Regions from separate parts of the Homo sapiens genome. Here region 2 is linked to region 1. The links come from fine-mapping of genetic effects on gene expression. A gene starts in region 1. The other region holds a variant in brackets. All regions are shown on one strand. Distances are from middle to middle. Region 1 holds the start of COL9A3 (collagen type IX alpha 3 chain). Region 2 overlaps TCFL5 (transcription factor like 5).

What was found.
Region 2: its variant is fine-mapped to the expression of COL9A3 in whole blood (INTERVAL, PIP above 0.99).

Annotation. Positions count from the first base shown.
Region 1 is chr20:62,815,493-62,818,391 of GRCh38, forward strand. COL9A3 (collagen type IX alpha 3 chain) reads left to right here and starts at 1,558. Exons shown (of 32, transcript NM_001853.4): 1 at 1,558-1,650; 2 at 2,075-2,143. The coding sequence starts at 1,573. RefSeq lists enhancers at 1-424, 1,113-1,798, 2,487-2,899.
Region 2 is chr20:62,845,540-62,848,438 of GRCh38, forward strand. All of the region lies in intron 5 of TCFL5 (transcription factor like 5), which reads right to left. It also overlaps the pseudogene DPH3P1. Among named protein-coding and RNA genes, the nearest start is that of TCFL5, 15 kb to the right of the region's middle. RefSeq lists an enhancer at 1,998-2,292. The variant G/A (reference allele first, on the strand shown) is at 1,321.

The DNA of each region.
Region 1 (2,899 bases):
TCCACCCACCTCTCCCCGTAATCAAAAGTCCTCTGTTAGGAAGCTCTGTGCCAGGATGACTTGGACTCCTCAGGAGGGTGGGCCTTTTCAGCTCCTCCCACCTCGCCTGATGGAATTCGCACACACCCCTCCCAGCCCAGCCACCGCGCTCACCCAGCAGTGAAGGGAGAATCTCCCTCCACTCACTTCACCGCGGGAGAGATTAGAGCGACACTATTATTTTGAGACAGGGTCTCACTCTCTTGCCCAGGCAGGAGTGCAGTGGCGCCGTCTTGGCTCACTGCAGCCCCGACCTTACAGGCTCAAGCGATCCTCTTGCCTCAGCCTCCCGTGTAGCGTGGACTACAGGCGAGCACCACCATGCCCAGCCGATGTTTTAATTTTTGGTAGACATGAGGCCTCCCTCTGTCTCCAAGCTGGCCACGCCCGGCCGATGTTTCAATTTTTGGTAGAGATGAGGCCTCCCTCTGTCGCCAGGCTGACTGCGCCCGGCCAGAGTGCGGTGCTCCTGCTGAGCAGTTTTGCGCCCACTCCCCTCTCATCCCCTCCCGCCCTTGCTAACTCACAGCATTGCAACAGTCATGAGTCCCCACCTGCCGAAAGGAAGCTCCTGCAGCCCCCTACAACCCCCAGGGCAGCCTTTCTCGGGAATTTTCAAGATTCCTGGGGGAGGGGCTGGCATCTGCGCCTTCACTGAGCCTACAGGCAACTGGAAGCTTTGAGTCCCCTAGGGCAGCGACTGCCCTGGCAGCCTGAGGCAGAGCTTGGCCGGACCTGGCGACCCCTGAGCTTCTGGGAAATGGACATGGCCAGCACCGCCTTCAGGTTCCTGCCCAGGGCACGGTTCCTTCAGGCCGGGGATCCCGGGGAGGGGTTCTTCCCCTCGGCCAGGGTCATCGTTTTGCGATCTCTCCTGGGAGTCTGGGTTTGGAGTCTGGTCTTAGCCGGTAGCAACTGACGTGGCCTGACCACCCGGCCCGTCCAGGTCCACGGGTGAGGGGCCGCGGTGGGGGTGCTCCCAGCCCAGCAGGCAGCGCTGGACAGTGACCCCGGAGCGGGAACCAGGGCTGCGCTGGGCACTGACCGGGCCCTGGTACCGGGGATTCACCCTCCCCGGGGTGTTCCTGGGCCTTGGGTCGCCTGGGTCCGCTCCGGCGCCTGGGGAGGGGTCTGCGGCTTCGGAAACTCGCGGGTCTCCCCTGCCCCTCCCTGAAGGCGGCCCTTCAGCGCCGCGCGCTTCCGCCCCCACACTCGGGTTGAGGAGCAAGGAGAGAAAAGAGCGTCTTTCTCTCTTGCTCAAAGCTGCGTGTGTGCAACGCGCCAGTCCCAGGATAATTTTAACTCGCGGCCGGAGAGAACGCGCCGCCCGCCCGGCGTCTTTTTTGTTTTCGCCCAGGCGGGCTGGGCGGCGGCGCGGGGCGGGTGGAAGCCCCCCCGCCCAGGTGGGCCCGGCTGAATGGGGGGCTTGTGCAGGCGGGGGCGGGAAGGGGAAGGGGAAGGGGCCGCCCACCTCCCGCCCCGCCCGCCCGCGCGCCGCCCGCCCCGACGCCGCAGCTCAGACTCCGCTCAGCCATGGCCGGGCCGCGCGCGTGCGCCCCGCTCCTGCTCCTGCTCCTGCTCGGGGAGCTTCTGGCGGCCGCCGGGGCGCAGGTGAGCGCGAGCTCCGGGCTCTGAGGCTGGACGTGGAGCCGCGACCGCCCCAGCCCCGAACCCGCCACTCCGGGGTGCCCGGCGCAGCCTCGACGCCCCCAGCCCGTGTCGCCGTCGGGGCGCGGAGTCGCCAGCGCCTCGGGATGAGCCCCGTCCGGCCGCGTCCTCGATGGGTCCTCGCTGGCCCGGGTCGGCCGGCGCCGCCGCCTCCTCTGGGAGCACAAGGGGGCCTTTGTTCCCGCCGCCGGAGGGAGGCGGGGGACACACTGCGCGGGGGCGCCGGGCTCCGCCCGAGGCTTTGGGTCTCACCGAGGAGAGCGGCGGTCGTCGCAGGCCCCGGAGCCGCTCGGGACCCGGGAGGAGGGGACGCCGGGTCAGGCCCACGGGGGCACCTGCGCTCCTTAATGAGTTTTCTCCGTTTCAGAGAGTGGGACTCCCCGGCCCCCCCGGCCCCCCAGGGCCGCCCGGGAAGCCCGGCCAGGACGGCATTGACGTGAGTTTGGGGGTGGGGAGGGCCCCGAGCGCTCTGGGGTTCTGGCTCTGGCCCCCACCTCCCTGAGCTCCCCGGCCTGATGGAGAGAAAACCAGGCCCCACCTCCCAGAGCCGGGGTGACATCAGGGGACAGCCAGTGCCTTCACGGGATGGGGGTGGCCCTGCGGGGACTGCTGGTGGGTAGGGGTGGAGGGTGTCATGTGGTGGTCCTCCACCCAGAATGCCGGCACTGAGGTGTGTGTCTCTGGGTCCCCTGAGGGGCCCGTGCCCCTGTGTTCGGGGTTCTGGCCTCTGGCTGAAGTGGGGAGAGGCACGTCCTTTGGGTGGTTGGGGGCCGGGGGTCTTGTTGGAGGCTGCTGGGCTCTGGAGCCAGCCATGGAGGGGGCTTAGGAGCCGACTCAGTCCTGAGATGATGTCCCCTATGGGTATCTCAGGACTGGTGTGGGCCAAGCAGCAGGAGGAGGCGGCTGAAATTCTACAATTGTGCCTCCCTCGGAGGGACCGTCTGGGGTGAACCTCCCCATGTGACCACCACCAGGGCAGGAGTCCCCTCAGGGCCTGTCCACGCTGTGTGGTCCCCGTGGAGGGCTGTGGAGGGCTGCACCAAGAGCCCCCCATGACCCACCCTCTGCCCCCCTGCCCAGCTCGGCCTCAATGGCCACAGCCTCCTTCCAGTCTGTCCAGTTCACCCCTTTGCCCAGTGCTGCCCCACACATGGGAGGGTGCCCTCTAGGTAGGGATCGGGGGCTCAGGGGC
Region 2 (2,899 bases), 30 kb after region 1:
ATAGAATTCACCTTTCAGGACAATTAAATGAAAGTCAGAGCCTGGGCCGGCTCCGGAGAAGTTAGACCCTCGGAGCTGGTCTCGGACTGCTGGGGCGTCACCCCTTCAGCAACCCCCGCTGACCATGGCAGTATTTCATGACGAGGTGGAAATCGAGGACTTCCAATATGACGAGGACTCGGAGACATATTTCTGTCCCTGCCCATGCGGAGATAACTTCTCCATCACCAAGGAAGAGCTGGAGAATGGGGAAGGTGTGGCAATGTGTCCAGGCTGCTCTCTCATTATAAAAGTGATTTATGACAAAGATCAGTTTGCGTGTGGAGAAACAGTGCCAGTGCCTTCAGTCAACAAAGAATGAGTTAAATGCTAAGGAAGCCTTCAGGAATCCGAACCCTGAACAGCTGGAAATGAGCCCAGATAGAAACTTCAAATGCAAAGCTCCTGGCTTCGTGGAGACACAGCCATTTGTGATTTGCTGTTCTGTAGGCGTGTTGTGGATTCTTTCCATCAACTGCTGATTTCATCTTCAGGAAGCAAGTCCATAACATGACGTATCTGGAGTTTGTGCTTAGAACCTTAAATTGGAAGCATTCTTAATTATCCATCTAAATTTAAAAGACGATAATTTAAAAAAAAAGAAGGAAGGAAGAAAATAATCATCCTCAGACATAACTAGGCGCTCGCAAGATCTTCTGAACTATTTTCACACAGTGATGAGGCTAGTCCCGGCGTCTGCCTTCACTATGAACAGTTGGGCAGAGGCAGGGTTGAGTTGTGGTTCCATCTGGACCCTTGCAGGGCCCGCCCACGACCCGTCTCCTGGGAGCTGGGGCAGCTGTGAAAGAGAGGAGCAGATCCCCTTAGTCCTCCTCAGCTGAGCCCAGGCCAAAGACGTGGTACTGATGTCATCGCACTCTCAATCTGCACCTCAATCCAAATGCATCTATTTGCAACAGAACATATGTGAAATCGTTGAGTTTTAAAGGAATTTTTATAACATCAAAACATTGAGATGACAACGTCCCAAAGCAGATACTCATGTTAGATTTGTGAACATGAGAAGAATAACAACAAGACGGGTGCGGTGGTGAGGGGCGCCTACGGTCCTAGCTACTCGGGAGGCTGAGGCAGGAGGAGCACCTGAGCCCAAGAGGACGAGGCTGCACTAAGCTGTGGTTGCACCGCACTCCAGCCTGGGTGACAGAATGAGGGCCCCTCGCTGGGAAAAAAAAAAAAAGAGAGAAAGAAAAAGAAAAATAATAATACCAACAATAAAAAAAATTTTCTTAGTAAGAAAAAAGAAATAGCTCTAACTAT[G/A]AGTCAGGAAAATATACCAGGAAGTTATTAAGAGGAAGAAAGCGGCCGGGTGCAGTGGCTCACACCTGTAATCGCAGCACTTTGGGAGGCCGAGGTGGGTGGATCACCTGAGGTCGGGAGTTCACGACCAGCCTCACCAACATGGAGAAACCCCATCTCTAATAAAAATACAAAATTTGCCGGGGTGGTGGCACATGCCTGTAATCCCAGCTACTCAGGAGGCTGAGGCAGGAGAATTGCTTGAACCCAGGAGGCAGACGCTGTAGTGAGCCAAGATCGCGCCATTACACGGCAGCCTGGGCAACGAGTGAAACTTCATCTCAAAAAAAAAAAAAAAAAATTACAAGCTATTTAAAACTGAGAAACAATGAAAGCATTGTGTCCTAACCTGTGAAATGTTTCAAAAGCACACCAGGACAAATTTACTATAATGCATTGATTAGAAAACAACATAGACAAAATAAACTTTCAACCCAAGATACCAGAAAAAAATAAAACTTCAAGAAGGAAATAATAGAAATAAGGTTTTGGGATAATAAAGATAAGAGCAAATTATGATGGAAAAAGCACTACCACTGACCCCACATAAAAAACCAACAAAGTGAATGACTGAGCCCCAGAAAGACTCCAGCACGGCCCAGGCCAGAGGGGTACAGCAGACCAAGGAGCTCAGGTGGCCAGAGGTAAGGAGGCATAAACTCATTAGGACAAAAAGAATGGCTTTTCTTTTTCAAGATGCTTTATTTTTAAAACAGGTCACAACACAGCGTTCGGCTCATTCTGCCACGAACAAGCTACAAACGCTTGCTCTGCAGCCGAGAGGCCCTCCAGTGGCCATGTTCAAAAACAGAATGAAAATCCGTATGTAGGCCAGGCGCGGTGGCTCACGTTGGTAATCCCAGCACTGTGGGAGGCCGAGGCGGGCGGATCACCTGAGGTCAGGAGTTCGAGACCAGCCTGGCCAATATGGCAAAACTCCATCTCTACTAAAAATACAAAAATTAGCTGGGCGTGGTGGCGTGACCAAACGGCATGGGAGGCCATGATCACAGGCTGCTGGGAATGGATCCAAGAGAGGATGAAGTGGCTCAGGAGGTACAGACAAGCGCCGGGCAGCCGGGCAGCCAAGGAGAGCAGAGAAATGGGCGGTTGCCAGTACAGGACACGAGGTCCAGGGAGTTCTCACAGAAGGATCACGGGAGAAGTCACAGCGTGTCCGCAGGAAAGGAGGAGAGAAGGGACAGGCCAGTCCGAGTCTGCAGCAGGGCCTGACAACAGACAGCACGTGAGGGACAGCGACACCGGGGCCTGATGCAGATGGCAGGGAGATGCGAAGCGGGACTCAACCACCTGCTGGTGTGAAGAAGGGAGGGACAGACACCACAAGGGAGGCCCCAGGAGTGGCTGGCACCTTCAGGGCCCCCAGCGTGCAGGGGCATCTCACAACTAAACACAACCAGCGCCCCAGACGCCATCCCGACTGGGGAAAAAGTTGTAGTGGGCACTATTGAGACAGCAGGCAAAATGTGAATAACAGTCTTGCACCAATGTTAAATGTCCTGATTTTCATCGTTGTGGA